6 linked regions of the Homo sapiens genome follow. The protein of the gene in region 1 purifies or fractionates together with the protein of each later gene. This does not show direct contact. Each region holds a gene or a part of one and is shown in the gene's direction. Other genes may lie near its edges. The genes, in order: RAB4B, NECAP1, RNF170, DAB2IP, SENP8 and ARHGAP39.

Region 1 (4,096 bases):
GGGTGCAGTGAGCCAAGATTCAGCCACTGCATTCCAGCCTGGGCGACAGAGCAAGACTCTGTCTCAAAAAAAAAAAAAAAAAAAAAAAAAAGAGACATCTGCCAGGCCACAGGGAATCCACCTGCAGCCCCAGGCCAGCTTCCTGCCCTAGACCTTGACCCTCCCATTCATAGTTCTCCAGCGATTTATTGAGCGCCTGCTGTGTGCCAGGCCCTGCTCAAGGCACTGGGGATATGGCAGGGAGTACAACAGACTCCCATCCTCATGGTGCTGACATTCTCTTTGGGGGAGACAGGTGATAAACAAGAGATGTAAGTCGACTGGGCGCAGTGGCTCACACCTGTAATCCCAGCACTTTGGCAGGGTGAGATGGGAAGATCACTTTGAGACCAGGCTGGGCAACAAAGCAACCTTATCTCCACAAAAAGTTTTTTAAAATTAGCGAGGCGTGGTGGTGTGCACCTGGAGTCCCAGCTACTTGGGAGGCTGAGGTGGGAGGATGGCTTGAGTCCAGGTGTTCGAGGCTGCAGTGAGCTGTGACCATGCGCCACTGCATTCCAGCCTGGGTGACAGAGCGAGACTCTTAAAAAAAAAAAAAAAAAAAAAAGTAAAGTATGTAGTAGTGAGGGAGGTAAGAACTATGGGGAAAAATAAAACAGGCACAGATGAGTGGATAGGGTGGAGGAGTGTACTTTTTTTTTTTTCTTTGAGATGGGGTATTGCTCTGTTACCCAGGATGGAGTGCTGTGGCGTGATCTCGGCTCACTGAAACCTCCGCCTCCTGGGTTCAAGTGATTCTCCTGCCTCAGCCTCCCGAGTAGCTGAGATTACAGGCGACTACCACCATGCCTGGCTAATTTTTTTTAATTTTTATAGAGACAGGGTTTCTTTTTTTTTTTTTTTTTTTTTTTGAGATGGAGTCTTGCTCTGTTGCCCAGGCTAGAGTGCAGTGGCACGATCTTGGTTCACTGCAACTTCTGCCTCCTGAGTTCAAGTTGCCTCAGCCTCCTGAGTAGCTGGAACTACAGGCGCCCGCCACCACGCCTGGCTAATTTTTATGTATTTAGTAGAGATGGGGTTTTACCATATTGGCCAGGCTGGTCTCGATCTCTTGACCTTGTGATCTGCCCGCCTCGGCCTCTCAAAGTGCCGGGATTACAGTGTGAGCCACCGCACCTGGCCGACACAGGGTTTCATCATGTTGGCCAGGCTGGTATCAAACTCCTGACCTCAAGTGATCCACCCACTCTTGGCCTACTAAAATGTTGAGATTACAGGCGTGAGCCACTGCGCCCGGCCAAGAATGTACTTTTTTTTTTTTCTGAGATGGAGTTTCACTCTTGTTGCCCAGGCTGGAGTGCAATGGCGCGATCTCAGCTCACCGCAACCTCTGCCTCCTAGGTTCAAGCAATTCTCCTGCCTCAGTCTCCTGAGTAGCTGGGATTACAGGCATGTGCCACCACACCCAGCTAATTTTGTATTTTTAGTAGAGACGGGGTTTCTCCGTGTTGGTCAGGCTGGTCTGGAACTCCCGACCTCAGGTGATCTGCCCGCCTCAGCCTCCCAAAGTGCTGGGATTACAGGCGGGAGCCACCACGCCCAGCCTTTTTTTTTTTTTTTTTTTTTGAGACAGAGTCTCACTCTGTCGCCATGCTAGAGTGCAGTGGCACGATCTCGGCTCACTGCAACCTCTGCCTCCTGGGTTCAAGCAATTCTCCTGCCTCAGTCTCCCGAGTAGCTGGGACTATAGGTGCGTGCCACCATGCCCAGCTAATTTTTGTATTTTTAGTAGAGACATTTCACCATGTTGGCCAGGTTGGTCTCGATCTCTTGACCTCGTGATCCGCCCACCTCAGCCTCCCAAAGTGCTGGGATTACAGGCGTCAGCCACCGCACCTGGCCAAGAGTGTACATTTAAACAAGATGAGGAGGGAAGCCTCGCTGAGAAGATGACATTTGAGTGAAGGAAGGGAGATAGGGAGGCCTGTGGGGATCTGGGGCAAGAGCACTGCTGGAGAGCACAGCAACGCTTCTAGCGAGGGGTATGCCTGGTGTCGGTGAGGGTGACCAAAGCAGCCAGTGTGGTCATCATGGAGGACCTGTGTGTGTTTTGTGGGTACAGCATGAGATGGGGTCAGGGGTTGGAGGAAGCAGATCAGTTAGGGCCTGTGGGCCCTGGGGAGGCCTCTGGCTTATACCCTGTGTGGGAGCCATGGGAGGCTTCTGAACAGAGGAAGGACAGGATCAGATTCAGGGGTGCAGAGAGTTCCTCTGGCTGCATAAAGGGAAGGGGCTGTGAGGGACAGAGGAGGTCACCAGGACACCAGAGAGGAAGCTGCTGCAAAGTCCAGGGAAGATGGTGGAGGACAGGACAAGGGGGCGGGAAGAGGAGTGGCTGAGAAGGGAATAGGGTTCATGTCCTCCCTAGACTCTCTGTCTTCCAGTCTTGGCCTCTCTCTTTTTTTTTTTTTTGGTTCCTGTCTTTTTATTTTGAGACAGAGTCTCGCTCTGTCACCCAGGCTGGAGTGCAGTGGCGCGATCTTGGCTTACTGCAAGCTCCGCCTCCTGGGTTCATGCCATTCTCCTGCCTCAGCCTCCTGAGTAGCTGGGACTACAGGCACCCGTCACCATGCCCGGCTAATTTTTTGTATTTTTTTTAGTAGAGATGGGGTTTCACGGTGTTAGCCAGGATGGTCTCGATCTCCTGACCTCGTGATCCTCCTGCCTCGGCCTCCCAAAGTGCTGGGATTACAGGCATGAGCCTTTCCTTTTTTTTTTTTTTTTTTTTTAATTTTAGAGAGAATCTCACTCTGCTCACTCTGTCACCCAGGCTAGAGTGCAGTGGCGCCATCTTGGCTCACTGCGACCTCCGCCTCCCGGGTTCAAGTGAGTCTCCTGCCTCAGCCTCCCAAGTAGCTGGGATTACAGGCATGTACTGCCACAACCAGCTAATTTTTGTATTTTTTTTTTTTTTTTGGAGATGGAGTCTCGCTTTGTTGCCCAGGCTGGAGTGCAGTGGTGCAGTCTCGGCTCACTGCAACCTCCGCCTCCTGGGTTCAGGTGATTCTTCTGCCTCAGCCTCCCGAGTAGCTGGGACTACAGGTGCGTGCCACCACGTCTGGCTAATTTTCTGTATTTTTAGTAGAGATGGGGTTTCACCATGTTAGCCAGGATGGTCTCGATCTCCTGACCTCGTGATCCACCTGCCTCGGCCTCCCAAAGTGCTGGGATGACAGGCGTGAGACATTGCGCCCGGCCAATTTTTGTATTTTTAATACAGACAGGGTTTTGCCATGCTCGTGAGGCTGGTCTTGAACTCCTGACTTCAGGTGATTCACCCGCCTTGGCCTCCCAAAGTGCTGGGATTACAGGCCTGAGCCACTGTGCCCTGCCAATCCTGTCTCCTTTTGATGCAGCCACTGGGTCTTTCTAACACACATATCTGCTCCTGTCGCTCCCTTTTTCAAAACCATCCATGCATCTCAGGGCCCCAGGACACAAATGAACTCCTCAGCCTGGTGTTTGACCCTCTGCAGGGACTGGCCCCTGCCAGCCCAGCCTTACCGGCCTCAGCCACTTGTCGGTCTCCCTACCTCTCAGGCCACTCCAGCCACACTGAAGTTCTTCCCATTCCTCTGGGCCCTTGCTCATGCTGGGCCTCTGCTTGGAACATTCCTACCCTCTTTTCCCTGGCAACCTCCTTCCTCCAGGCAGCACTACTTGTTCCTCCAGGCTTGGTCCAAACTTTTGTTTTTTTTTGAGATAGAGTCTCTGTCACTCAGGCTGGAGTGCAGTGGCGTGATTTCGGCTCACCGCAACCTCCGCTTCCAGGTTCAAGCAATTCTGGTGCCCCAGCCTCCTGAGTAGCTGGGACTATGGGCATGGGCCACCAACGCCTGGCAAAGTTTTTATATTTTTAGTAGAGACAGGGTTTCACCACGTTGGCCAGCTGCTCACAAACTCCTGGCCTCAAGTGATCCACCCACCTCAGCATCCAAAGTGCTGGAATTATAGGCATGAGCCACTGCACCCGGCCCCAAACTTCTTGACAGGCTTTCAAAACCCTGCAGGATTTGGTCCCATCCCTCCTTCTCTG
Region 2 (4,096 bases), on another chromosome or scaffold:
GCACGTGCCACTATGCCCAGCTAATTTTTGTATATTTAGTAGAGACGGGGTTTCACTGTGTTGGCCAGGCTGGTCTCAAACTCTTGACCTCGTGATCCGCCTGCCTTGGCCTCCCAAAGTGCTGGGATTACAGGCGTGAGCCACCGCACCCGGCCTACTTCAAGCTTTTTAAAACACCTCCCCTCTCACCCATCTTCTCTATCTTCACTTCTTAGTTTTCCACAACCTTTATACTTACATCAGTTAACTGCACTGAGCCATTAAAGCAGTTTCTTAATTTTCCTCTTTTTCCTGTTATCCTTCTGTGTTTTCCATGTCTACTGGCATTTTTTATCCTCCAAGAGGCACCTTATCATCAATCACTTTTTTAGTACAGCACATGAAGAGAGCGGAATTAAGTTTGAATAACGATATTTATTTGCTGGGTTACCTTTGGCAAATCACCACTTTTGAATGTTAGTTTCTTCATTTGTAAAAATGACTATAACAATACTTACCTTGTAGGATCCTCTCACTTAATCTTCTTTTTTTTTTTTTTTTTTTTTTTTTTTTTGTTGTTGAGACAGAGTCTCGCTCTGTCACCCAGGCTGGCGTACAATGGTGTGATCATGGCTCACTGCAATCTGTGCCTCCCAGATTCAACTGATTCTCGTGCCTCAGCCTCCTGAGTAGTTGAGATTACAGATGTGCACTGCCATGCTTGGCTAATTTTTTGTATTTTTAGTAGAGATGGGGTTTCACCATGTTGGCCAGGCTGGTCTTGAACTCCTGGCCTCAGGCAATCCACCCACCTCAACCTCCCAAAGTGCTGGGATTACAGGCATGAGCCACTGCGCCTGGCCCTTTCACTTAATTTTCACGAGAATGGGCATAATGCCTGGCACATAATAAATGCTTGATAAATGCTGGTTTTCTTTTTGTTTGCATAATCTTTCTTATTTACCAGAACCCACTTTATATTATAAGCAGGATTTATTCTCTAGGCTGACATTAAAGGACAAACTGGGCTTTTTAGAAAGCAGGAGGAATTTTTCCTTTGAGTGACTGGTAAGATTAGAGAGAATAATTGATTTTAATTCACCTAGTGTAAGCTGTTCGTTCCCAGACTTTCACTGACCAGACTTCTAGACTATGGGAAGGAAAATTTGGGTTGACAAGAAACTTATCAGGCTGAGTGCGGTGGCTCATATCTGTAATCCCAGGACTTTGGGAGGCCGAGGCGCACGGATCACTTAAGGTCAGGAGTTCCAGACCAGCCTGGCCAACATGGTGAAACCCCGTCTCTACAAAAATACAAAAAACTTAGCCAGCCGTGGTGGCGCACACCTGTAGTCCCAGCTACCTGGGAGGCTGAGGCAGTAGAATTGTTTGAACCCGGGAGGCGGAGGTTGCAATGAGCTGAGATCATGCCACTGCTCTCCAGCCTAGGCGACAGAGCAGGACTGCGTCTCAAAACAAACAAAAAGGAAACTTACAAATGCTTAGAAAACAATCTGGGTGCGGTGGCTCACTCCTGTAATCCCAGCACTTGGGGAGGCCAAGGCGGGCGGATTTCCTGAAGTCAGGAGTTTGAGACCAGCCTGGCCAACTTGGTGGAACCCCGTCTTTACTAAAAATACAAAAGAAATTAGCTGGGCATGGTGGCCTGTGCCTGTAATCTCAGCTACTCAGGAGGCTGAGGCAAGAGAATTGCTTGAACCCGAGGTTGCAGTTAGCCAAGATCGCGCCATTGCACTCCAGCCTGGGTGGAAGAGTGAGACTCTATTACACACACACACACACACACACACACACACACAAATAAATAAATGGTTAGAAAACAGTTTTCCAACCTATAAAACTATTTTTTTTTAAAAAAAAATTCTTCACTACCCTCTTCCCTTAGCTAAATCAATATTAACCTCTATAATGCGTTTCAGTGTAATGAAAGAATAATGGACTTTAAAGTTAGGCATTATTACTTACTGTGTTATCCTTTCCATCATTTAGAGAGAAAGAGAGGTATGACAGGCTTTTCATGCCTATTTCACATATCTACTATAAGGACATAATAAGATGTACATTTGGAATCTTACTGTGAATCATCATAGTGGTTTTTTATTTATATATATATAAAGTTTTATTACTAAGGTAAATGAAAATTTGTAAGGTAAGTTAAAAGTATTGTCAGAGGACAAGCAAAATCAAGAGTTCTTTAGATTAGGTCTTGGAGTAGGAAAGGAACTAAGGCTCAAGGCTGAGGGAATCTGCTGCCATGAATATCCATTTACTTACAGAATTTGTTAAGTATCGGACACTAGATACACAAGAGAAATAAGGAACTCATCCAAGAAAAACACATTTAATAGACTTGTTCCTAATTTTTTTTTTTTTTTTTTAGAGACAGGGTCTCACCCTGTTGCTCAGGCTGGAGTGCAGTGGGGCGATCATAGCTCACTGCAACCTCAAATTCTTAGGCTCAGGCAGTCCTCCTGCCTTGGCCTCCCAAAGTGCTGGTTATAGGCGTGAGCCACGGTGCCTGGCTGTTCCTAATATTTTTAATAGCCCATTTACATGAGCTCTTGGTGGCATGATTATAATAAGTAATAACTCATTAATATAATAGATGAGGAACTTTAGAGCTCTCTAATCTGGATCAGATTTAGGTACTTGAGGGTCTTTGAGGGCAGGGAATCAAGAGGGAAGAGAATGGGAAGGACTTATTTTACAGATCCTGTTCAAAACCTGTGCTAATTTTCACTTTCATTTTCCTCCTTTCAGCTTTTTACCTCTCATCTTGTTAAACTCATTCTTGTTCAAATATACCTTGTGGTTGCTTTTTTAGTCTTTAAGTATTAGTCTTTGGTTTCTTAGAAGATGAATTATTAATAACTTTTACTTTGCTAATCTGTTTTCCATACTCCTGGCAAAACAAATCACAAATACAATGTTTTGTAAAATTCATCATAAATAATCTTAGTTGTTGTTCAAGTTGATTATAACACGTTTTATAAATTTCTGATGTTTTCATGGCCGTTTGTATCTCCAGCCCAGATGTCTTTCTTGAACTCGTCTCATATATTTTACTGCCTACTCTACATCTCTTGAAAATCTACTAGACATCTCAAACTCAGCATATTTAAAACTGAATCCCTGATCCTTCTTCCTAGATGTGTTCCTTCTCATCTCAATAATTGGCAACTCTTTGCTCAGGCTAAACACCTTGGAGTTGTCCTTGGCTTCTATCCCCTATCTAATCCATTAGAAAATCCTGCTGCTTTTACCCTAAATATATCCTTCTCTTCTATCCCATATCTAATCCATTAGAAAATCCTGCTACTTTTACCCTAAATATATCCAGAATATAGCCACTTCTGCTACCATTGTGACTTTTCTAGATTACTGCAGTAGTCTCTTAGCTAATCCCCCTGCTTCAGTCCTCTTATCCCAACAGCTTTTCTCCAGACAGCAGATGTAGTAATCTTTTTAGAATATAAGGGAGATCATGTCACACCTCTGCTTAAAATTTGTAATAGCTCTTTTTTCACTCAGAGTGAAAGCTGAAGTTGTTACTATGACCCACAAGGCCCTGCGTGATCTGGCCGTCTGTTACCTCTCCCACCTTGTCTCTTCCTCTGTTCTAACCACAGTGCTTCCTTGTTGTCTCTCAAACATGCCAGGCATGCCCCCACCGTAGCACCTTTGGGCTAGCTGTTCCTTATGTCTAGAATGCTTTTCCCCCAGACATCTGTATGGATAACTCTCTTGCTTCACATTCTAGCTCACATTTCACCTTAATGAGACCTACCCCAACCACCCTCTTGAATGCTACAACTTGTTCATTCTCCCACTGTCTTCTTAATCTTCCTAATTTGCCTCTACATTTTCTTTTTACCTTAGAACTCACCACTTTCTAAGATACTAATTATGCTGTTTATTATGTTTCTTTTTTATTTTCTATCTTCTGTTAGGATGTAAGCCTCATGAGGGTTGGAATCTTTGTTTTGGTTGCTGTTGTATCCTAAGCATCTGGAACAGTGATGCATCTGTCCTAATAAGTACTGTATAAATATTGATTGAATTCAGTGAAAGATAGTATATTTACTGATTTGGGAGG
Region 3 (4,096 bases), on another chromosome or scaffold:
TTTTAAATAACGTGGTACTGTTAAAATATTTCAAATAGTTGAATCTTTCTGAGGATATGTGGACTTTAAAACATCAATATTAATGGGTTATGTGTTTGTTTTGTTTTGTCTATTAGGTGCCTGCATTATTGCTTACTGGCGATATGGTTCATGGCTTGGGGCAATCAGTTGTCCAATCTGTAGACAAACGGTAATGTTTTGTGTGCAGAAAGTATCATTTATGCTAGTTTATTTTGTACATTTTTATAGTTTTTGTATCTACATTTGGAATTATTATTGTCTTTTTAGCAGAACTTCATTTATCCAAATCTTCTTTGATGTCACCATATATTATTATTATTATTTTTATTTTTTTTTATTTTTTTTGAAAAAAGGTCTTGCAGTGCAGTGGCATGATCGTAGCTTCCTGCAGCCTCGACCTCCTGGGCCCAAGCAATCCTTCCACCTTAGCCTCCTGAGTAGCTGGGACTATAGGCATGTGCCACCATGCCTGGCTAATTTTTTTATTTTTAGTAAAGATGAGGTCTCCCTGCATTGCCCAGGCTGGTCTGAAACTCCTGAACGCAAGCAATCCTCCTGCCTCAGCCTCCAAAGGTGCTGGGATTACAGGCATGAGATACCACGCCCAGCCCACGATTTTTTTTTTTTTTAAACTGTACCCGGCCCACGATTATTTTTTTAAAACTGTCACTGAGATACCACTACAAAAGGGAATCCTATTTGAAATCCTACAGTTGTAGTGAAAGACAATCAGGCTTGAGCATATATCCTCTATATATGCATATATACTTGTTTTGAAAAAAAATTTTTTTCCTTCTCAATGTATATTTAATCTGTCTTTTTCCAGTGAGGACCCAGATAGCTTTAAATGGTATATAATGATTTTTTTTTTTAATGTTTCATTCCTTTTAGAGACATGGCCACATTGCATTGTCCAGAACAGCTTAGACCATGACAGTTAGCATCGAAGCCACCTGAGGAGGGAGGCAGTAAGTAAGCATGAACGTGAGACTGAAATGTCACTGCAGATGAGACATGCCAAATTCTCTCCATTTCTTTGATAAACTGGAGAAATGAAATACTGAACAATTCTGAGAAACCAATATTCTCAGTTTTTAAGTATGACAAAATAGGACATTGTGTCAGTTGTACACTGTTTTTCATAATTTCCTTTATATTTATTTTTCATTTAAAATAAAAATACAGGGTGGGCGCAGTAGCTCATGCCTGTAATCCCAGCACTTTGGGAGGCCAAGGCAGGAGGATCACTTGAAGCTGGGAGTTCGATACCAGCTTGGGCAACAAAATGAGATTCCATCTCTACAAAAAAATTTAAAAAATGAAATTAGCCAGGTGTGGTGGTGTATACCTGTAGTCCCAGCTACTTGGGAGGCTGAGGTGGGGGGATTGCTTGAGCTCAGGAGGTTGAGGCTGCAATGAGCTATGATCATGGGACTGCACTCCAGCTTGGGCAATAGAACGAGATTACATCACTAAAAAAAAAAGTATTCCTCCACTTACCCATGGGTGGAATGTTCACACACACTAAAAAAAAAAAAAGTATTCCTCCACTTACCCGTGGGTGGAATGTTCACACACACACACACACACACACACACACACACTCTCTCTCTCTCTCTCCTTCAGCCTTTATTGTAGCTGTCTGTTTCCCCTCAACTGCCCTCTTATTTTGGTGCAAAGAGGGAGGTCCAAGTCATTTTCTTACCATTCTTGCTTATACATTCCCAAATTCTGCCTCTTTCATATTTTACTTGTGGCCACATGGTCAGGAGGAAAACTGATGTTTCTATATGCCTCTCTGGCTGATTTGATGCGTGACACAAGGCAGTCAACATTGAAGCTTATGGCCGGGCGTGATGGCTCACGCCTGTAATCCTAGCACTTTGGGAGGCTGAGGCGGGCAGATCACAAGGTCAAGAGATCAAGACCATCTTGGCCAACATGGTGAAACCCAGTCTGTACTAAATATACAAAAATTAGCTGCGCATGGTGGCGCACACCTGTAGTCCCAGCTACTTGGGAGGCTGAGGCAGAAAAATCACTTGAACCTGGGAGGTGGAGGTTGCAGTGAGCCGAGGTGGTGTCACTGCATTCCAGCCTGGAGACAGAGCGAGACTGTCTCAAAAAAAAATTTTTTTTTTAAATTGAAGCTTATTTGCCCGTACTACTTCTTGGCATCTTTTGCTCTCGGTCAGCAACATCCAAACTAGGGAGTAGGTCTTACATTAAAAAAATAGTTCCAGGCCCTCCCTCTTCTTGGTTCTGCCCATGGCTTTTCATAGGACATGTGTACAGTAGCCAGTGGTATCCTGTGTACCATCCATAAATTGACTAGAGGCTCAGAAGGTCGAGATAAAGTTGTCTTAATATAATAGGTCTTGGTTCCCTAAGATAAGAGTAATTCATCCTGGAGGCAAGACAGATGGCAAATGCTTGTTCTACCTCCTGTTTTCAGTAGCCCCTTCAGTAAATGGTCATGGAAATAGCAATACACAGGCTGCCGCCTCTGACTGGAACACATTCACCACTTCTCCCCTTGAATGCGTGCACACCAGCCACAGTCCTACCACCATTTCCAGGTTTGGCTCAGTATCAGGCTTTCTGACCACCCCAGGCAGAAGAGATCCTCGCTCTCACAGCAGCATTCTTGCACCTGCCCCAGGACCATGTAAGGCTGTCGGCCAGGTCTTCCTCCCCTTTCCTTGTGGGTGTTGTAGTCACCCTGGAGCAGGCTTTTGACTTCATTTTTCTGGCATACCTAGCACTAAGCAGAGTGCCTGGCCCGCCATAGGTGTTCCATTAATGTGTATTGAAAGAATGCATTTTTATTAACAAATTTGTGAAGGAAGTGATGGCTGCACCTGCTGTTCTCACCACCTTCTGTGCTTAGTCACGCCTTCTTTTAGCTGTTTGGAAAGCATCTAAACAGTGGGAAGCCTTGGTTTTACAGCTGAACTGAGGAAGGACAAAACAACAACTAAATGATTTAAAACTAAATCGGCCACCACTCCTTCCCGTTTTTATGTCATCATACAATCATTAGTGACCATTTTCTATAAGGGTGCTACGTCCTAAAGTGTATTTATTTTTCAAGGTACTGTCACCGTCAGATTACCCCAGTATGGTCCTGGGACATTTGTACATCCTTGTTACCACAACCATGAAGGAAGCAGGGTTAAATGTATTATGTTATATGACAATATCAAAAATTTCTTTTTTTTATTATAGTAGGAATTGGTGTTTGAGAGCTGGTCCCTGCAATAACATAATCTTTATATTATGGTTGGTAGCATTCAAAGATCTTTCAAATACCAGTAAGAATAACCAATCATTATTTTAATACTGAAAAAGAAAACCATAATTTTTCTGTCTTAAAGTGACAGTTATATATTTTATGTCACTTTCCTCCTGAATGTTTCCTCATCCTTCTTTTATCTTCAAATATCTGTTAGCCCAAATAGAGAACTAAGGAATTTACCCCTGGTGTGGACAGGAAAATATTAGGCCAGTAGTTGGATATGGTGTCTATTTTATAGGAGTTCAAATTCTATGTTGCATTGGATTTTATTGCAAAGCAGTTACTTACTCCCCTCCCCCAGGTTGCCTTTATTTAAAAATGAGTGAAATATAAATATAGAAGCCTTTATCATTCTATTGAATAATAACACAAAATGAAAAAAACATAATGATGCAGAAAGTTGAAATAATTTTTTTTTCTGTAATATACAGGTAACCTTACTCCTAACAGTATTTGGTGAAGATGATCAGTCTCAGGATGTTCTGAGATTGCATCAGGATATTAATGATTATAACCGGAGATTCTCAGGGCAACCCAGATCTGTAAGTAATGCTAAAGCATGTTCAAAGTTAGAGGAAGACACATTTCTTCTCTTTTGTAAAGTGAGGTTTACCAACAAGTATTCTTTGACTATGAGAAATCTTGGCCAGGCACAGTAGCTAACGCCTATAATCCTAGCACTTTGGGAGGCCAAGGCAGGTGGATCACTTGAGCCCAGGAGTTTGAGACCAGCCTTGGAAACATGATGAAACCCCATCTCTAGAAAAAACACCAAAA
Region 4 (3,294 bases), on another chromosome or scaffold:
CAAGCTTTCCTCAGAGTGATACCTTCCTGTACTGGGGAACCTGCCCCGGAGGGTCCCCCCCGCCACCACCGCTCCTCCCAGTTAGTGCTCCCTGAACTGCTGCCCTGCTGCCCCCATTACAGTCCCGTGCAGAACCGGCCCCGGCACAGTGGCTCCCTGTGTGTCTTCTGTGAGTGGGCTAAGTGCTTGCCCAGTGTGCGGTGGCTGCTCTAGGCTGGAGGAATCAAGAGGGCAGGGATGGAGAGAAGCCTTGGGAGTGGAGGGCTCATCTAAGAGTGTGTGGAGCAAGGAGAAGGGAGGCTGAGGCCAAAGCCCTGTGGACCCCCATGTCCAGAGGCAGACAGGACAAGGCATCTAGGAGACAGGCAGACCCAGAGAGTGTGGGGTCTCAAAGCCAAAGGAGAGTGGGAAGGTGGGAGTGCCCAGCAGTGAGAGTGTCTCAGGAACCAGCCAGGTGGGGCCAGGAGGGCTCCCAGGCAGGGAGCAGCAGGACGGAGCCGGCCTCCTGCCCACTGAGCTTCCGCGGGTGGTATGTCCCCCAGCTACTGCTCATTGTTCTGCCTGCACACCTGTCCTTCAGATGTCTCCTACTGATGTGCGACCTCCCAGCCCACCCTCCAGGGAACGTCACTGCTTCCTGCTCTTTGTTCCAGGGACCTGAGCTTTCCACTAGCGCAGCTGCTCCGTGCAGGGTGTAGTTAGTTACTCGTGCCTCCTGCCTTGTGAACTCCTTGAGGGAAAGGACTAGAGTTCATTCATCTTGGCACCTCGCGTACAACTTTGTGAAGATGGCGGGGGCAGGGTGGAAAAAGTTCTAGAGCCTTTCAGGGCCTTCGTCTTTCCACCACCTGCCTAGCTCTAGGGGTTTGAAGATCTAATGCCCATTTCCACCCATCTTGGCTCCTGGAAGAACATCGGGAAAGGGGCAGCCCGGGGGCCTCTGGGGCTTTAGGAGCAGCGAGTGTGGGATGTGGAGGTGAGGAAGGAGGCCCAGCAGTGTCAGTTGCTGGGAGTCGGCTGGAGGGCCTCTGCCCCAGGCAAGTATGGGAGGCAAGTCTCTGACCCAAGGAGGGGCTCTCCTAGTGTGTCCCTGCTGTGTGCGGGGGTGATGGGCTTGTTCTCACACCCTCCCCACCTCTGCTGCCTCCAGGGCCAGTCTGACTGTCTCTGTCTCTGGCTATAGGTTGATGTCCGTGGAGGAAGAACTGAAGAAGGACCACGCAGAGATGCAAGCGGCTGTGGACTCCAAACAGAAGATCATTGATGCCCAGGTGGGGGCTCCGGCCCTTTGGTCAGCCACAAGAGTTAAAGGGCCTGGGATTAGGAGGGGTGACTAGCCTCTCCATCCTCAGTCATACCTCACTGCAGACACTGAGGGGAATAAGAAACCAGAATCTGCCCTGAGAAGTCAGACCTGTGGTCTTAGTGGGCCACAAGCTCACTAGGACAGGCTGTGAAAGGAGAGAGGCAGCTCCTCCCCTGCCAGGGCTCTTGGCGGGCATTGTCTTTCACCAGGACTGCTGACCAAAGAGTGGAAGCCACCAGGAGGGCAGTGGGGGTAGGAGTGAAGGCAGGCTGGTCAGAGGGAGCAGTGGGGCTCTCGTTCACAACTATGGCATCCGGGCTGCATTGAGGGGAGACGTGAAAGGCTCTGTGGCCCCAGCCTCCTTTACTCAGGGCTGCACCGCTTTCCTTTCACTCACCCAGGAGTAGGCTGGGCCTTGCTCAGGCTGTAAACTGCACAGACCAGGAGCTGTGACCTCTGGTGTGTCATGCACACACATGTGAGCAAGGGTGCCTGCCCTAGGGGCCGCAGGCAGCCCATAGACAGCACTAGAGCTGCTGCATTTGGGCTGATAAGCAGGCAGCGAGGCTGTGTCCATGATGCTGCAGAGGCCTCTGCCTACCTTCTCTTGCCAGCTGCTCACAGCCCGGAGCCTGCCTGCCACCCTCATCTCCAGGCCACCCCCTTCCCCGATGCTTGTCGTAGGTATACACAGCCCTAAGGAGCCTGTCCCATGACCCCCGCTCACATCCCCATTGTCCACAGGAGAAGCGCATTGCCTCGTTGGATGCCGCCAATGCCCGCCTCATGAGTGCCCTGACCCAGCTGAAAGAGAGGTACAGCATGCAAGCCCGTAACGGCATCTCCCCCACCAACCCCACCAAATTGCAGATTACTGAGAACGGCGAGTTCAGAAACAGCAGCAATTGTTAACCTGCCTGAGGAGGGAGGAAGCTACCCAAGGAGAGGGGGACTATGGTGGCCAAGGGCAGGGTCTCGGCCTGGGGAGGCACCCACGGTTGCAGCCCCAGCGCGGGTGTCAGGAGGCCGAGCCTCCCCTCCCTGCCGCTGTCCAGGAGGCGGCCGCAGAGGGAGCCACCAGAGACTGAAGCAGCGTGAGGCGAGGTCACCAGCCGCTCCCTGTGGGGTGCGGGCAGAAGAGACTGCACGCTGGGGAGTGGGGACAGCCTGATGGGGCAGGGGGCCTGCCAAAAATATGTCTGTTGGTTCCTGAATGTGGTGTGTCCTTGTCCTCCTGGATCTGGCCGAGTGCATGTGTCCCCCCACACCTGTGCCAGGGAGGGGGCTTCCTGGAGGGGGGATTCAAGGGCTAGGGGCCTACACCTGTGGCTTCCCCTCGCCTCCTTGGGGGGCCCGGGACTCCCTGGCAGCCAGGCCCTGTCATGTGGGACCTGGCACTTGGCAGATCAGTTGGCAGGCAGGAAGATAGGAGGACACAGAGCAGGAGGTCAGTGTCCCCTGCCTGTCTCCATCCGAAGCACCTGCCACTGCATGCAGCCTGTTGGGACCTTCCTGGCTGTGAGGAACTGAGGATTCCTACCCACCCACCCCCTCTGAACCTGTCCCCAGAGCACCACCTGCTACCTTCTTCCCTGCCTTAGTTGTATTGCCAGATAGACCCAGTGAGGGCCATGGCTTTTTCTTGTGAGCTCTTGTCCCTGTGGGGAGGACCCACAGCTTCCCACACCTCCCACACAGGCCCAGGCTGATGCTCTAGGGCTCCCAGAAGCCAGAGATCTGGGCGGATCTGGCCAGATGGCTCTGAGCACTGTATCTGCCTTCTCCTGGGGCCCAGCACACCCAGGGCACAGTGGTCCTGTAGGGAGTGCCACCTGGTGCTCACCCTGAAAGAAAAGGTGATCCTTCCTCTGAGTGATGGTTTAAAAAAAGATTCTAACGCCTGCAGGCCCTGAGAAGGTGGATAACTGTGATTTTTTTTCCTTTCACAGTATGCATTAGAAACAAAAGCCCGCTTGCTCGCTTGCTGG
Region 5 (4,096 bases), on another chromosome or scaffold:
AGGAGTGCCAACCCCCGTATGCAGTCAAAATTCTAGGTATAACTTTTTTTTTTTTTTTTTTGAGATGGAGTCTTGCTCTGTTGCCCAGGCTGGAGCGCAATGGCATGATCTCAGCTCACTGCAACCTCCACCTTCCAGGTTCAAGCAGTTCTCCCACCTCAGCCTTTCGAGTAGCTGGGATTACAGGCATGCCCCACCACGCCCGGCTAATTTTTGTATTTTTAGTAGAGATGGGGTTTCACCATGTTGGCCAGGCTGGTCTCAAACTCCTGACCTCAAGTGATCTGCCCACCTTGGCCTCCCAAAGTGCTGGGATTTCAGGCGTGAGCCACAGCACCCAGCCTAGGTGTAGGATTTGACTCCCTAAAAAAATACGCCAGGTGCGGTGGCTCACGCCTGTAATTCCAGCACTTTGGGAGGCTGAGGCGGGCGGATCACAAGGTCAGGAATTCGAGACCAGCCTGGCTGATATGGCGAAACCCTGTCTCTACTAAAAATACAAAAAAAAATTAGCCGGGCATGGTGGCACATGCCTGTAATCCCAGCTACTCAGGAGGTTGAGTCAAAAGAATCGCTTCAACCCAGGAGGCAGAGGTTGCAGTGAGCTGAGATCGTGCCACTGCACTCCAATCTGGGCGACAGAGTGTGACTCCATCTCAAAAAAAAAAAAAAAAAAAAACTTTACTACCAATAACATAGCCAATTAACAATAACATAGCCAATTAATACATGTTTTGTAAATGTATTATATACTGCATAATATATACCTTACCAATAACATAGCCAATTAACACGTTTTGTAAATGTATTATATACATTTACAAATAACCTTACCAATAACATAGCCAATTAACACGTTACCTTACCAATAACATAGCCTTACCAATAACATAGCCAGTTAACACATGTTTTTTAATGTATTATAAACTGCATTCTTACGAAAAAGTAAGCTAGGGGAAAATATTAAGAAAATCATAAAAGAAAATATATTTACTATTCATTAAGTGGAAATGGATCGTCATAAAGGTCTTCATCCTCATCATCATGTTGAGTAGGCTGAAGAGGAGGAGGAAAAGGAGCAATTGGTCTTGCTGTCTCAGGGGTGGCAGAGGCAAAAGAAAATCCATGTGTAAGTAGATCTGCACAGATCAAACCCACCTTGTCCAAGGGTCAACTGTGTATTTTTTTACCACAACCCTATAAAAGTAACTACTATTTTCCAGCCGCATTTTACAGTCAGGTATTTATTGACAATAATATTGTCTTCTAGCTCTTGTTCAGCTTCTGGAATTTCTGAGCAGCCCTCGTCAGTACAAGATGGACCCCGTAGTCTTGAGTTACATGGACAGTCTACTGCGGCAATCAGATGTCTCACTATTGGATCCGCCAAGCTGGCTCAATGACCATATTATTGGGTTTGCGTTTGAGTACTTTGCCAACAGTCAGTTTCATGACTGCTCTGATCACGTCAGTTTCATCAGCCCTGAAGTCACCCAGTTCATCAAGTGCACTAGCAACCCAGCAGAGATTGCCATGTTCCTTGAACCACTGGACCTCCCCAACAAGAGAGTTGTATTTTTAGCCATCAATGATAACTCCAACCAGGCAGCTGGAGGAACCCACTGGAGTTTATTGGTCTACCTCCAAGATAAAAATAGCTTTTTTCATTATGATTCCCATAGCAGGAGCAACTCAGTTCACGCAAAGCAGGTAGCAGAGAAACTGGAGGCTTTCTTAGGCAGAAAAGGAGACAAACTGGCCTTTGTGGAAGAGAAAGCCCCTGCCCAACAAAACAGCTATGACTGTGGGATGTACGTGATATGTAACACTGAGGCCTTGTGTCAGAACTTCTTTAGGCAACAGACAGAATCACTGCTGCAGCTACTCACCCCTGCATACATCACAAAGAAGAGGGGAGAATGGAAAGATCTCATTACCACACTTGCTAAAAAGTAGCTATTGAAGTATATTTGCGACTTTTGAAGGCTCCTCTTTCTGCCCTTCCCCATTTGTTGGATGGCTGCAATCTCAGTGCCTGAGGGAAGATGCCTAGTAGAGGAAAGCTTAATACTCTTTTTCCTGAAAGAATATCATCCTCTGCATTATCCCCATGGAACGTTTCACTTTAACCCTGACTGGGGAGCAATATGTTCTGTGAAAATATCTTGAAATTGTACACCAAAACCTTACAACCAACTTATTTGAACATTTATTACACACAGGGTTTACGTAAGACTTTTCTTATTGGTATATAATTAATTTCCTTTGGTCTCCCTTATCCACATTGGCTTATTCTGGAGGAAAAGCAGTGATCTGTAAAACAAATCAAGAATATATTAAATCTAGAGGAATGCAGAGAAGAAAACTATAAAACAGAACCAAAAACTTGTTGCACAGCCTACATAATTAAGAGATCAACTGGCTGGAAGCAGATCAAGGCCTAACTTCATTCAAGACCTAAATATTATGAGACTCAGTTATTCGGTTTTATGTGACATCTCTTCCATTCACCATGCACAGGCTTTTCCAGCTATCTATATAATGTTTGCAAATATTTGATAAAGATGATGTTACCCTATCTTCCTCCATCTGATTCCTGGAATGCTTGAAGAAAGGGGAAATCTTGAGTAACCTCATTAAAATTAATGTCTGGTGGACCTCTCAGTTTGCTCACTGATTGGGTAGACTTGCTACTCTGGATTAATAACTGCTTTTCTCTGCCTTGTCTATTAGCCATGCACACACTTCCTCCTTATATCCAAAGTTCTTTGGTTCTAAAATTCATAGTTGATACCTTCCCAAGGTTACCTGTTGTTTCAGATAAACATTTGTTCTTCCTGATAGTTATAGGTTTTCCTCTCTGTCCTTAATTCTGGCAGAATTGTTTTTAGTTATGTCATGGTAATTTCAGGATGATTTTTGTATCTGAAACTTAACAGACTTAGAGTTGGTTTGTTTTTTAAATATAAAGGAAGAAAAGTGACCTTTCTCAGCCCTTTTACTTAATTAAAAATGCAGGGAATGTAATTTGTAAAATGTGGAACCAAGAGTAGAACGAAATACTATCCCTCCAGAAGCACTGATGTGTTTCAGTTGTTTCAAATAGTAAACAACCAGATGACATGTTAGGTACACAAATTAATTCTATTCCTAATGAGAATTAGATTGCAAGGCCTATGAGACTTGAAAACCAAAGATGAGCTTCAGCCATGAAACTTATTTCAGCTACCTCCCCAGCCTAACCCTGCCCCCAGCCCTCATGGCCCAAAATAACCTCACCACTCAGTGACCACAGAGAAAGTAACTTGGTTCCTTTTAGCCGAGAAGGGAAAACACAGTAAGGGTAAATAAGTACAGGTTACATAGCAGGCCTGAGTGAGCAGGAGCTGAAACTAAAAGTCAAAGAGAAAGCTATCAAAAAAAGTTTCCATTTCAAGTCGGTACATTTTGGATAAAAACCAGTCCTAATGGAAGATGGGGCTAGGAAAAAGATTAGGAACTGGCAGTCATCCATAGAGGTGAAATACAGAGGGAGGGACAGCAAGAGAAGTGACAAAGGTCACTGATGATAGGCCACAAGTGTAGATAAAGATAAGAAAACAATGTTATTTCAGTGACTGTTGACTTAGGCAGCTAATCTAGACTATTAAAGTCAAATCCTCTCTGGGAAAAGTTATCTTTCTGACAATGCAAAGTATGTTTATTTAAATATCAGAGTATCTTCAATCTGAGAATTAAAGCATATGAAAGCAATCTTTCCTAACTCCCTACGATTCATCTTATAAGTAAATTTATAAGTAAATTTTTAAACTACACTAGTCTTTTAAATATATATAGAAAAATATATATACACACGTATAGACATGTATATGTAATCTATCTACATATATATAAAAAATGCATTTTCCAAATGCATTAGCCTGATTGGACTGTGCCACAGATTAGTGTCCTCCTATGAAATTTTGAGTATGTCATTTGTAAATGTTAGCATTATAAATTGCAGGAGAATTTAAGAATTGACTTGTATTTCACTGGATACTATAGTACCCGGTAAGTTACACACCTGCTTGACCACATACCATTCATGTTACATGAC
Region 6 (4,096 bases), on another chromosome or scaffold:
GCCCGGCTAATTTTTTGTGTTTTTAGTAGACACGGGGTTTCACTGTGTTAGCCAGGATGGTCTCGATCTCCTGACCTCGTGATCCGCCCGCCTTGGCCTCCCAAAGTGCTGGGATTACAGGCGTGAGACACTGCGCCCGGCCTAGATTTTAATTTTCTAGCTAACCGGGAGCCACCGCAGGCAGCTTTGTGAGCAGGGGATGTCCTGATTAATGGTTTAGGGAGATTTAATTGGCAATGTTCTGTAGGATGGGTTGGTGAAGGAAGAAATCCAAATCCAGGAGTTTACTGGACAGCTTTCTCCAGAGCGAGTTGCAGTAGCAACCCCAGCACTGCAGCGCTCACAGCAGCAGAGGCTGATTCCTGCCCGCGTTTCGTTTGCTTGTGACTCTTTTCCAAGAGTCTTCATTTCCAGATCCAGGACCAGGCCTTATGTGGCACATGCTGTTTTTATGGCAAGAGAGTGGCAGAAACCTAGTGTCTTTTCCGGCACCATCCTGGACTGGCATCTCAGGGTCCACGGACCAAAGCAGGGTGTGACGTACAGCCTCCTATGGGGAAGGTGAGCCCCTGCTCGGACGCTGTGCTGAGCAGAGCTGAGGAGCCCGTACCTGCTGTCTGGGCCATCTCACCATGACTGAAGGTGCAGCTGGATGTCTCCCCTCAGCCGCAGATGCTGGACGCTGGAGCCGGCCACCATGCGCGAGAGCCCCTGAGGCGGCTCAGACTCAGCACCCACATTCACTTCTGGCCTCAACCCTTTGGGGCTTTGGGACCTTCACCTGCTTGGTCACCACCTAGAATTTTGGCGTGCTGGGTCCCCCTCTCAGCTGCCATGTGGTACGGCTCCAGGTCCTCTTGCCAGTTCCCCCTGAACAGTGATCAGAACCCCTGCCTGAGTGGGACCTGCACCATGTCCCTCCTGCACTACGCTGTACCTCCTGGGGCTCTCCTGCCCCAGCCTTGAGCCACTCCCCTGTCTCTGCCACATAGCTGCTCAGATGATATAAACAGGGCAGTGATCTCCCCAGGGGTGATTCTGACACCACTCCCCGCCCTCCTGCCACATTTGGCAATATTTGGAGACATTTTTGGTTGTCCCAACTAGGAGGGGATGGCCAAGGATTTGTGGAGGCTGGGGATGCTGTTGAAATCCTACAGTGCACAGGATGGCGCCAGGCTCAGAGCGTCTAGGCGAGTGACTCTGCTGCCTGGCTCTCCTCCCTGGCTCCCCAGTGCCTCCTGGACCATGCTCCACAGCGCTGCGTGACCCCAACCTACTCTGCTCTCCAGAAAAACTGCCATGTGGTCATGGGCCAAGTCTTTCTTGGCGTCCCTCCTTCCAAAACTAAGCCAAGCTCACTGGTTCCTTCAGCCCTTTGACTCAGACTCAGGTAATGTCTGTGGGAGCGCCTCCTGGATCGCTGCCTTGTCCTCAGGTGCTCCACCCCCTCTCGTAGTGCTCTAGGTGGTGCTTTTGGTCACTGCACAATCACATAATATTTTCTCCCCTCTAGACTGGGAAGTCCTTGAGGGCAGCAGATACATTTGTATTTTCTTTTTTTTTTTTTAGAGAGAGAGTCAGGGTGGGTTGTCCAGGCTGGAGTGCAGTGGTATGATCACAGCTCAGTGCAGCCTCCATCTCCTGGGCTCAAGTGATCCTCCCACCTCGGCCTCCGAAAGTGCCAGGATTGTAGACATGAGCCATGGCACTTGGCTGTTTGTGTTCTGAATGTCTTGCTGCAGATTGCAACATTTTCTTTGAGCACTGGCTTCAGTAAAGATGATTGGGTTTAGGATGGGGAGTTGCCCTCAGAGAATGGCTGGCGCAGCAGGGGGAGGGACTCGTTGACACATTTCCCACGTCGGCTGCTTCCATCTTCCTGGGCCTCTCTTGTAACTTGCTTTCCTAAGTGTAAATGTCTTGATTCTCACAGATTCTCTATTTTTGCTTCCTAGAAAGTTTCAATTTTGTTTAACATTTTTGAGCAGATAATATACGTGGTTCAAAAGTACAAAGGGAGCTCAGTGAAGCCTCCTAGTCTCTACCCTGGAACCTGGTTCCCCTGGAAGCTTTGCTGGACCAGCTTCTTGTGTATCCTTCTAGAGATACTTTGTAACTTTGCAAGCAAACAAGTGTATGTATTCTGTTTTTTTCCTTACCCTTTTCTTTTTAAAAAGTTTCTGAACCTTGCCTTTTTCAACTATGTTTGAGAGATCTTTCCATATCAGTACATTTTCCGGTACATTCTTTCCATGGCCGCACTGTATTTGGCTGTATGGAGGTGCTGTGGAATTTTCATGCTGTTACCAGCAAGGCTATAGGCACAGTGTTTTGCAAATGTACCTGTAGGACCCATCCTAGAAATAGCATCTCTTTCTTCAATCACCGTTTATTCCGTCACATCAGGGTTTGCTCTTGTCTCTTAGTGTCTTTATTTCTGCACTTCCTTTGGTCATTTATTTCTCCTAATTATCTCATCTCTCTATATTTTAAATAATATAGTAGGTCAAATTAAATGAATGTCTCAGTTGGAAACTGGTTCACCTTTTGTGTGTTCTTTTGGTTGAGTGACTGGAAATATACACGTCCACGCAGAAGCTTGTCCATGAGTGTTCACAACAGCCAGAAAGTGGAGACAACCTAAATGTCCATCAGCGGATGAACGGATAAACACAATGTGGTCCATTCCTGCAATGGAATATTATTTGGCAATAAAAGGAAGTGAGTTACTGATTCATGTTATAACGTGTGTGAACCTTAAAAATATGCAGGCCAGGCACGGTGGCTCAGGCCTCTAATCCCAGCACTTTGGGAGGCCCAGGCGGGCGGATCATGAGGTCAAGAGATCAAGACCATCCTGACCAACATGGTGAAACCCTGTCTATACTAAAAGTACAAAAATTAGCTGGGCGTGGAGGTGAGAGGTGACAACGTGCTGGCAGCCCTCGCTTGCTCTCGGCGCCTCCTCGGCGTCCGCTCTGGCCACGCTGGAGGAGCCCTTCAGCCAGCTGCTGCGCTGTGGGGGCCTCTCTCTGGGGCTGGCCGAGGCCAGAGCCGGCTCCCTCTGCTCGCAGAGAGGTGTGGAGGGAGAGGCGTGGGCGGGAGCCGGTGCTGTGGCTGGCGCCTGCTGGGCTTGATCTGGGACGAGCTTCCTCTGGGCTGCCGGAGTGCCCGGGCTAGGTGCCGTGAAGTCCCACCATTGAGAGGTGAAGCCGGCTGGGCTTCTGGGTCGGGTGGGGACTTGGAGAACTTTTCTGTCTAGCTAAAGGTTTGTAAACACACCAATCAGCAGTCTGTGTCTAGCTAAAGGTTTGTAAACGCACCAATCAGCACTGTGTGTCTAGCTCAAGGTTTGTAAACGCACCAGTCAGCAGCACGTGTGTCTAGCTCAAGGTTTGTAAACGCACCAGTCAGCAGCACCCGTGTCTAGCTCAAGGTTTGTAAACGCACCAATCAGTGCTCTGTGTCTAGCTAATCTAGTGGGGACTTGGAGAACTTTTGTGTCTAGCTAAAGTATTGTAAATGCACCAATCAGCACTCTGTGTTTAGCTGAAGGTTTGTAAACATACTAATCAGCACCCTGTCAAAACGGACCAATCAGCTCTGTGTAAAATGGACCAATCGGTGGGAGGTGGGTGGAGCCAGATAAGGGAATAAAAGCAGGCCACCCAAGCCAGCAGCGGCAACACGCTGGGGTCCCCTTCCATGCTGTGGAAGCTTTGTTCTTTTGCTCTTCGCACTAAATCTTGCTGGTGCTCACTCTTTGGGTCCGCGCCGCCTTTATGAGCTGTGACACTCACCGAGAAGGTCTGCAGCTTCACTCCTGAAGCCAGCGAGACCATGAACCCACTGGGAGGGAAGAACAACTCCTGACGGGAGGAAGGAACAACTCTGGACATGCTATCTTCATGAACCGTAACACTCACCGCGAAGGTCTGCAGCTTCACTCCTGAAGCCAGGAAGACCACGAACCCACCGGAGGGAACGAACAACTCCAGATGCACTGCCTTTAAGAACTGTAATACTAACCACGAAGGTCTGCAGCTTCACTCCTGAGGCCAGCGAGACCACGAACCCACCGGAAGGAATGAAC

What was found.
Region 2: the proteins of RAB4B (region 1) and NECAP1 purify together in Homo sapiens (affinity purification with mass spectrometry; one large-scale study listed by BioGRID and IntAct). This does not show direct contact.
Region 3: the proteins of RAB4B (region 1) and RNF170 purify together in Homo sapiens (affinity purification with mass spectrometry; one large-scale study listed by BioGRID and IntAct). This does not show direct contact.
Region 4: the proteins of RAB4B (region 1) and DAB2IP purify together in Homo sapiens (affinity purification with mass spectrometry; one large-scale study listed by BioGRID and IntAct). This does not show direct contact.
Region 5: the proteins of RAB4B (region 1) and SENP8 fractionate together in Homo sapiens (co-fractionation; one large-scale study listed by BioGRID). This does not show direct contact.
Region 6: the proteins of RAB4B (region 1) and ARHGAP39 purify together in Homo sapiens (affinity purification with mass spectrometry; one large-scale study listed by BioGRID and IntAct). This does not show direct contact.

The regions. Positions count from the first base shown.
Region 1 is NC_000019.10:40,787,897-40,791,992, forward strand, and holds part of RAB4B (ras-related protein Rab-4B), read left to right. Parts: intron 1-4,096. UniProt on the Homo sapiens protein: The small GTPases Rab are key regulators of intracellular membrane trafficking, from the formation of transport vesicles to their fusion with membranes.
Region 2 is NC_000012.12:8,085,163-8,089,258, forward strand, and holds part of NECAP1 (adaptin ear-binding coat-associated protein 1), read left to right. Parts: intron 1-4,096. UniProt on the Homo sapiens protein: Involved in endocytosis.
Region 3 is NC_000008.11:42,861,510-42,865,605, reverse strand, and holds part of RNF170 (E3 ubiquitin-protein ligase RNF170), read left to right. Parts: intron 1-116; coding exon 117-190; intron 191-912; coding exon of another isoform or gene 913-955; exon of another isoform or gene 956-993; intron 994-3,750; coding exon 3,751-3,861; intron 3,862-4,096. UniProt on the Homo sapiens protein: E3 ubiquitin-protein ligase that plays an essential role in stimulus-induced inositol 1,4,5-trisphosphate receptor type 1 (ITPR1) ubiquitination and degradation via the endoplasmic reticulum-associated degradation (ERAD) pathway.
Region 4 is NC_000009.12:121,780,281-121,783,574, forward strand, and holds part of DAB2IP (disabled homolog 2-interacting protein), read left to right. Parts: intron 1-1,183; coding exon 1,184-1,271; intron 1,272-2,050; coding exon 2,051-2,218; 3' UTR 2,219-3,255; coding exon of another isoform or gene 3,256-3,265; 3' UTR 3,266-3,294. UniProt on the Homo sapiens protein: Functions as a scaffold protein implicated in the regulation of a large spectrum of both general and specialized signaling pathways.
Region 5 is NC_000015.10:72,138,307-72,142,402, forward strand, and holds part of SENP8 (sentrin-specific protease 8), read left to right. Parts: intron 1-1,005; exon of another isoform or gene 1,006-1,129; intron 1,130-1,270; 5' UTR 1,271-1,317; coding exon 1,318-1,956; 3' UTR 1,957-4,096. UniProt on the Homo sapiens protein: Protease that catalyzes two essential functions in the NEDD8 pathway: processing of full-length NEDD8 to its mature form and deconjugation of NEDD8 from targeted proteins such as cullins or p53.
Region 6 is NC_000008.11:144,675,745-144,679,840, reverse strand, and holds part of ARHGAP39 (rho GTPase-activating protein 39), read left to right. Parts: intron 1-4,096.